Regions from separate parts of the Homo sapiens genome. Here region 2 is linked to region 1. The links come from fine-mapping of genetic effects on gene expression. Tissue or cell type: aorta. Region 1 holds a variant in brackets; the other region holds the start of a gene. All regions are shown on one strand. Distances are from middle to middle.

Region 1 (4,242 bases):
CAGAGCTGGGCATGGTGGCACACTCCTGTAATCCCAACAACTCAAGAGGCTGAGGCAGGAGGATCGCTTGAGGCCACAAGTTCAAGACGAGCATGAGCAATGTAGTATGACCCAATCTTTACAAAAAAAAATAATAATCAGCTGGGCACAGTGGCATGCACCTGTAGTCCCAGCTACTGGGGAGCATGAGGTGGAAGGATAGATTGAGCCCAGGAGTTGGAGGCTGCAGTGAGCCACTATTGCACCACTGCACTCCAGTGTGGGCAAAACTGAGACACCAAAAAAAAAGAAGTGTTCTGTGGTTGCAGAGCAAGAGAGAGAGGAGGCTTAACAGATTCCCACCCTGAAAGAGAAAGTAGGAAGCAGAGTACATAATAGCACTCAATTTCCTTTGAGAAAACTGCCTTCCCTCCATTGTGAGAAGTCTTCACCTGGAGGGCCTGCCTCCTCACTGCTGCAGCCAGGAGCCAGGTCTTCACCCACTTCCCAGGGAGTCACAAGAGCCTGGCTGCTAGGCTCAGCGAATGGATGCTCTCTCCAAGTACAGCAAGATCCTAAGCAAGTTAGGCTTTAGTGCCGTGGCAGAAGCAAGCATGCTGAACACAATTCCCCGCATCCACAATGGAGGCTGGGCATTGCCAGCAGTAGCGGTTGGAACACAGGATTTAGGAGGAGGCAGCAGTTATGAAATGCTCAAGATAACCAGTAATGAGCAGCACAAGACCCCTTGCACCTTCAAATATAAGACCAGTAATAACACTTACAAATGTACATTTTAACTTGGATAGTTAAAAATACTAACAAGTGATTTATATCTGCTAAATCAGCAAAAAAGAACAAAGAGGAACAAATTGAAGGCATATGTTTTAATGAACATTATAACCAAAAAAAATTGAGTCCTTGTGCTAGAAACATGTAGAAGAAAAATTATAAATTTGTTTCAAAGAAAGCTTTCAGAATCAGTTTTACCTAAAATCTATAGCTAAGATTATCACTCCCACATACCCTCACCCATGATTTCTTCCTGCCAACCTTCTCTCAATAGCTATATCAGTATTTGGCTTGATTCATGTTCAATATTGACAACAGCATGTCTAGTTAAATACTGCTCGCAGCTGGCCATGGGACATATTATGAATACCTTTGCTTCCCAGATACATTTATAATTGTTTAGTTTTTCATTTGCTTACTTCTCTGGGCCATAATTCAACCCCAAATTATTTGCCATTTGTCCAGATCTCTCCACATCCTGATGGATCAGGTTGTCTACAAATGTCATCTTGTTCAAAGGCCTCTGCTCCATTCTAACCTGGCAGGAGTAGAGGGGTGCCATGCAGAAGGGGAGCAGAGAATGCCAGGAAGGCAGGAGAACAGGGGCCTCTGGGCTGAACCAGCCCAAAGGCTCCTGTGCAGCTTCCCAGTGAGAAAAGGTGAGACTGTCAGCAAAGAGAAAGTGAACTTTGCCCAGCTCTCTATGACCACATGCTGCCACACACACTGAGGATTGAGAACAGATCCAAGGGCAACCGCAGACGCCTAAAGCTAAAGAAGGTGGTCTAAGGTTGTATAAAAAAATCCAGATGCACTTTTTTTTTTTTTTTTTTTTGTAGACAGGATCTCACTGTTGCCCAGGCAGTGGCACAATCTAGGCTCACTGCAACCTCTGCCTCCTGGGTTCACACAATTCTCCTGCCTCAGCCTCCCTAATAGCTGGGATTACAGGTGCCTGCCACCACACTGGGCTAATTTTTGTATTTTTTGGTAAAGACGGGGTTTCACGATATCGGCCAGGCTGGTCTCAAACTCCTAGCCTCTACTGATCCACCCGCCTCGGCCTCTCAAAGTGCTGGGATTATAGGCGTAAGCCACCTTGCCCAGCCTCCAGACGCATTTTCTATACAACTCTGCACGGGCAATTTTGGCCTCAGAGTCCTCCAGCAGGTGGCAGACTCCAGCACAGGAACAAAATCTGTCTACCCCAGAAATCTCTTCCAAGTTGACACAGCCTTCATAAGCAAGAGCCATAACTGTGATGAATGCCTGTTGTCATTTTAAGCACTGCAAGTTATTCCACATGAATACTGAACTGTGGTCCAAGCATACAGGGGAATGCATCCCCCTTTCAATCACACGACATCCAACACATGCCATAGGTGGGTAATGTCAAGCAATATTCACCCCCCGCCCCTGAATCCTTCACTTGGTCAGGAGACACCCTGTATCTACTGCAAAGACTTCTGTTTTCTCCTCGGTTCTGTATTTTCCCAAATTCCTACCCTGGTACGTACTATTTTTTTCTAATTACAAAATAATCATTAACTTTTAAAAAGCCATGTACAACTAGTTGACATAATAAAAATCCACCTAACTCATCTTTTAGTAACTATGGCTATGTTGTAACAATTTTATTTTGATTTTTAAAAAAGGAATCTCTTGATTTAATCAGGGCTTTGGGGTCATAGGGGGATTAGTCACTGTCACAGTCATAATAATGCATTTATTCAGGGAAAACTTTAAT[T/C]TTCTTTGTCTTCTCCAAAAACAGCTGCTGGAACACCTCAAATTAAGGGATGTTCATCTAAAACACCTTTACTGAAACTTGATTCCTTGGGCCAGAGGAAGGTCTTTACTGTAGTTGATAGTACTAGTGGGAAAAAATAACAGAATTAATGACAGTACATACATAACAGAAGATTTTCATGCCCACTTTTAAAATGTAGCAGATCTGTATATATTAACAAGGCAAGATCTCCAAGTTACAACTTTTTAAGACAAACCTTTAAGATAAAAGACAATGTTAGTATGGATCCCGTTTTATTTAAAAGAAAAAAGACAGAAACATAAAAATCTGGAAAGACATACCATACATGGTTTTTTTTGTTGGTGGTGGTTTTTGTTTGTTTGTTTGTTTTGTTTTGAGACAGGGTCTCACTCTGTCACCCAGACTGGAGTGCAATGGCACAATCTCAGCTCACTGCAACCTCCGCCTCCCAGGCTCAAGCGATTCTCCTGCCTCAGCCTCCTGATTAGCTGTGCACCACCACGCCTGGCTAATTTTTGTATTTTTAGTAGAGACGGGGTTTCACCATGTTGGCCAGGCTGGTCTTGAACTCCTGACCTCAAATGATCCACCTGCCTCAGCCTCCTGAACTGCTTGGATTACAGGCATGAGCCACTGCAGGCGTGGATCACCTGAGGTCAGGAGTTCAAGACCAGCCTGGCCAACATGGTGAAACCCGGTCTCTACTAAAAATGCAAAAATTAGCCTGGCATGGTGGTGCAGGCCTGTGATGACAGCTACTTGGGAGGCTGAGGCAGGAGAATCGCTGGAATCTGGGAGGCGGAGGCTGAGGCTGCAGTGAGCTGAGATCAGGCCACTGCACTCCAGCCTGGGTGACAGAGCAAGACTCCATCTCAAAAAAAAAAAAAAGTGTGCCCTCAAAAGTGCAAGAAACAGCCCAGCATGGTGGCTCATGCCTGTAATCCCAGGACTTTGAGAGGCCGAGGCAGGCAGATCACCTGAGGTCAGGAGTTCAACAACAGCCTGGCCAACACGGTGAAACCCAATCTCTACTAAAAATACAAAAATTAGCCGGGTGCTGTGGCTCACGCCTGTAATCTCAGCACTTTGGGAGGCCAAGGCGGGTGGATCACCTGAGGTCGGGAGTTCGAGACCAGCCTGACCAACATGGAGAAACCCCAACTCTACTAAAAATACAGAAACCACGCACGAGACCATTTCATTGTTGGGTGCTGGGCACTAGCTGAAGCTAGACAAGAAGGCTAGAAAAATAGCACCAAATAGATACTTAGAGGAGACAGCTGTGGAATGCTGGAAAAATCAAATCAAATGACACTGCACAAAGACAGCACAGACAGTAGGAAAGTGTAAAAGCCCATTCCCAAGGGTTTTAAGCCCAAACCTATCTTCCCAAAGCCTTTTCTTACCAAGTAGACCTTCTCATGTACTGTTTCCAGGCATCACTGCCAGACTCCCTGCCACCACCAGTGTGCTTTTCTCCTCCTAGAGAAATAAAAAATAATATCATATCTTCTGAGCAGTTTCCATGTGGGCTCATAGTTGGTATCAATGAAAAGAAGATACCAAAAGGACACCAGAACAACCTGATTATTTACTTTACATTTAGCCCACAATATCTCCCCTGCAAACAAATCAAAGACAGAGACCAAGAGACCAAAACAAACAGAAAAAAGGAATTAAGAGGGAAAATAAAATATAAGGAA
Region 2 (4,242 bases), 51 kb after region 1:
TAAATGACAAATGAAAAATAAACACATTATTCTCTTCATTTGTGATTTTATATTATTCTTGACCTGCCTAACTGGCTTCTGCCTCTAAAGAAAGCCTGCACAAACTCCTTGTGTATAATTTGAATTAAACACACACACACACACACACACACACACACACACACTCTTACCTGTCGGACTCTTGCTATTGGCTCGTTGTTAGCAGGGCAATAGGTCGTAATAACCTTAAAACAAAAGGATGATGATCATGTATAGAAAACGTAATCCCTTTTGAAGTAAGGGAATAGACCAAACGGGGAAGAAAAACAAGAGAGGAAAAAATGATATAATACCCAAACTCAAAAAGCTTAGGTTAACTTCTGTTACATATAAACCACTCTACAGAGGTTGTCTTTCATTTCTGACTTAAACATTAGAAACTACCTTTCTGCAAAACTCGCCTCTGACATCTCAATATTAGGCATATAAACAAAAGCCTTAACATAAGCAGTTATTTTGTCTCTTTTTCCATTAATAACAGACCAAACTGACTAGTTTTAGTTATTTCTTCTCTTCCTTACTCTGCCCACCCTCTGCTCAGAGATGAAATGGCCAAGGCAGGAAAACTGTTGGAAAGTCCCGTGTCCACACCAACTGGAGAGGTCTCAGGTCAACAATGAAAGGGAAAATCAAGGCACAGCTAAAAAGGCCTCCAAGAGCCTAATGATCAGATACCACACGGAAATCAGGATGAAACACCGAGGTCTGAGGAGCAATTAAAATTATCTGTATCTCCTACAGCCACTGATTACCAAAAGACGTGTTCCCTCTACCAAGGCAGGTTCATTATATAATATACAACGTCCAACAAAGTTTGTTAACTGTTACATAACATCCTCCTATAAAAAACTTTCTTTTAAAAAAAAATCTGGGCGATAATAACCTTACCTTTCCATTGTATTCTATAAAACATTGTTTTGAGCAGTAATGGGTATCAGGCGCGGTGTTAAGCCCTGGGCAATGGAGAAATGCTGAAAATCCAGTCCTCAAAGGAGTTCACAGCCCAACGTACAACATGGCAAGATTTCGGCACGTCCAAGCTTGCAAACTCCCAAAGAATTCAGGAAGGAAGATAACTTAAAACTACACTGAAGAACGTTACCTGCGGTGCACGTCACAGCTGAAGAGCCAGAGTTAAGCTCTAAATTAAGATCAGTTGCACCGCTCAGTGTGCCACATTTCTCACAAGACCATAGATCCCAAGACCATAAGGTTTTAATTTTTTTTTTTTTTTTTTTTTTTGAGACGGAATTTCGCTCTTGTTGCTCAGGCTGGAGTGCAATGGCACGATCTCGGCTCACTACGACCTCCACCTCCCGGGTTCAAGCGATTCTCCTGCCTCAGCCTCCCTAGTAGCTGGGATTACAGGCATGCGCCACCACGCCCGGCTATTTTGTATTTTTTTTAGTAGAGACAAGGTTTCTCCATGTCGGTCAGGCTGGTCTTGAACTCGCTACCTCAGGTGATCCGCCCGCCTAGGCCTCCCAAAGTGCTGGGATTACAGGGGTGAGCCACCGCGCCCGGTAGACCATAATGTTTTAAATATGCGCGGGAAGTTTAGCCCCTACAGCTCCAAAATGACGTCGATTCTGCATAGCACACAAGGACCTAAAATCTAAGTTTTTGTTTTAAAGGCACCCTACACGAGAAAACTTTTACTGTGGAGCTTCAAAATCTCCCATGCTACTACCGCATCCAGCGCCAGCGGGGAGTCGGTAGGTCAGTGCCCGCCCGGCCTCCTCGAGCGAGCCCCGGCGGCTGCAGAGATTTCTTGAGCGCCCGCGTACCTCTCCCCGGCCTCCCCAGCTTCCATTATACACGCCCTCGTTTTCCTCGCGGAGCCCCAGCTCTTTCAGCCACGCATACTGGGGCTGATTGATGAGGAGAGTGGACATGAAGGCGGCAGGCCTGCTCCAAGGTCCAGAGAGCTTGCTGGTCTTTGCAGCGTGCACACACAGCGCGCGAGGAAGGCGCCACATACTGAGCCCGGGACTCGGGATGAGCCCAAGGCCCTGAGAGCTGCTGAAATAGAGCCCCGCCCCCCGCCCGGGAGAACCCATTGGGCAGACCCGACCCCTCCCACTGGGCACGACCCCGCCACCGCCCCGTCTGCCCCTGGTCTTCCGGAGGAGCCTGCGGCTGAATCCTGCCTGGAACAATGGGAGTGCTACAGGGAGGAGTGGGCTGCTGCCATCTGGTGAAAGACTCCGGGAGCCACAGTTCCAGCTGGGAATTCTTTTCAGCAAAATATTGGCGCTGAAGTACAGTAGGCTATAGCAGGGGTTCTGAAACTGTAAAATGCGTGTAATGACCTGGTCGTCGTGGTAAATGCACATTCTGATTCAGTAAGTCTGGGCTAGGGTCGGAGAGCCGACATTCCTAACCAGCTCCTCAGCGATGGTGACGCCTCTTGTCCCTGGAGTAGGCAACGGAGGGTTTGTATTGGGGGGCGGGGGAAGGGTTGGTTGTTTTCACTGTTTTGGTAGATTACAAATTAAAGTTTTCTAATTAATGATAAATATTAGATTGCTGCATTTCCTCTATAAATATCCTGCCTGGGTATATTCTTACTTTTTTTTTTTTTTTTTTTTTTTGGAAACGGAGTTTCGCTCTTCTTGCCCAAGCTAGAGTGCAACGGCGCGATCTCGGCTCACTGCAACCTCCGCCTACCGGGTTCAAGCGGATTCTCTTGCCTCAGCCTCCTGAGTAGCTGGGATTACAGGTGTGCACCACCACACCCGGCTAATTTTTTGTATTTTTAGGACAAACGGGGTTTCACCATGTTAGTCAGGCTGGTCTGGAACTCCTGACCTGAGATGATCTGCCCGCCTCAGCCTCCGAAAGTGCTGGGATTAGAGACATGAGCCACTGCGCCCGGCCTCTTACTTTTTTTTTTTTAAGATGGAGTCTCGCCCTATCGCCCAGGCTGGAGTGCAATGGCACGATCTCCACTCACTGCAACTTCAACCTCCCAGGTTCAAGTGATTCTCCTGCCTCAGCCTCCCCAGTAGCTGGGATTACAGGTGCACACCACCACACCAGCTAATTTTTGTATTTTTAGTAGAGACGGGGTTTCTCCCTGTTGGCCAGGCTGCTCTCGAACTCCTGACCTCGTGATCTGCCCGCCTCTGCCTCCCAAAGTGCTGGGATTACAGGCGTGAGCCACTGTGTCCGGCCTATTCTTACATTTTTTTTTTTTTTTTGAGACGTAGTCTCGCACTGTTGCCAGGGCTGGAGTCCAGTGGCGCAATCTCGGCTCACTGCAACCTCCGCCTCCCGGGTTCACGCGATTCTCCTTGCCTCAGCCTCCTGCGTAGCTGGGATTACAGGCGCCCACCACCACGCTTGGCCAATTTTTTGTATTTTGAGTAGAGAAGGGGTTTCACTATGTTGGCCAGACTGGTCTCGAATTCCTGACCTCGTGATCCGCCCACCTCAGCCTCCCAAAGTGCTGGGATTACAGGTGTGAGCCACCACGCCCAGCTCTTACTCTTAAAGAATAAAGACAGTTTTGATCAATTTCTTTCATTCTCCATTTCTGTCTTCCTACAATATCCTTTCCATTCATGCATGCCCCATCTCATTTCACAACAACTGGGCCTACCCTGTAAAACGGAAATACTAATATCTCAATCATCATTATTTGAACATGAGTTTAAAATATGCTTGCCCACGCTAGAGTGCAGTGGCAGGATCATGGCTTACTGAAGCCTCGACCTCCGAGGCTCTAGTGATCCTCCTACCTCAACCTCCCAAGTAGCTGGGACTACAGGCATGCCATCACACCCAGCTAATTTTTGAGGATTTTTTGTAGAGACAGGGTTCCCCCATGTTGCCCAGGCTGGTCCGCACCTCCTCGGCTCAAGGGATCTGCCTTGCGCCTCCCAAAGAGCTGGGATTACAGGCTTGAGCCACCACTCCTGGCCCCTTTCATCTCTGCATTCAAACATAAGCTTTATCTCTTCCACCCTTATAGTACAAATGATTTGAACAAACACTCTGCATGTATCAAGCAGCTACCAGAAACTGCAGTTAGTACTAGGCATACATGAATGATGCTTCCTTTTGTAAATGCTACAGTTTTTTCCTGTTAGGGCAAGGACCATCTCTGACTCATCTTTGCATTGCTCCACAGTTCCTAGCATTGTTCCAAGTTTACGCTCACTTACATGAGTATATGAACAAATGAACCAATGAATAACA

What was found. PIP is the estimated chance that this variant, and not a neighbour inherited with it, causes the effect.
Region 2: it holds the start of ALDH7A1, and the variant in region 1 is the best candidate, but not a certain one, in a credible set for the expression of ALDH7A1 in aorta (GTEx, PIP 0.53).

The regions. Positions count from the first base shown.
Region 1 is chr5:126,542,379-126,546,620 of GRCh38, forward strand. ALDH7A1 (aldehyde dehydrogenase 7 family member A1) reads right to left here. Exons shown (of 18, transcript NM_001182.5): 17 at 3,946-4,021; 18 at 1-2,641. The coding sequence ends at 2,587. Among named protein-coding and RNA genes, the nearest start is that of ALDH7A1, 51 kb to the right of the region's middle. RefSeq lists enhancers at 1,359-1,653, 2,020-2,069. The variant T/C (reference allele first, on the strand shown) is at 2,519.
Region 2 is chr5:126,593,181-126,597,422 of GRCh38, forward strand. It overlaps ALDH7A1 (aldehyde dehydrogenase 7 family member A1), which reads right to left and starts at 2,039. Exons shown (of 18, transcript NM_001182.5): 1 at 1,827-2,039; 2 at 171-224. The coding sequence starts at 2,018.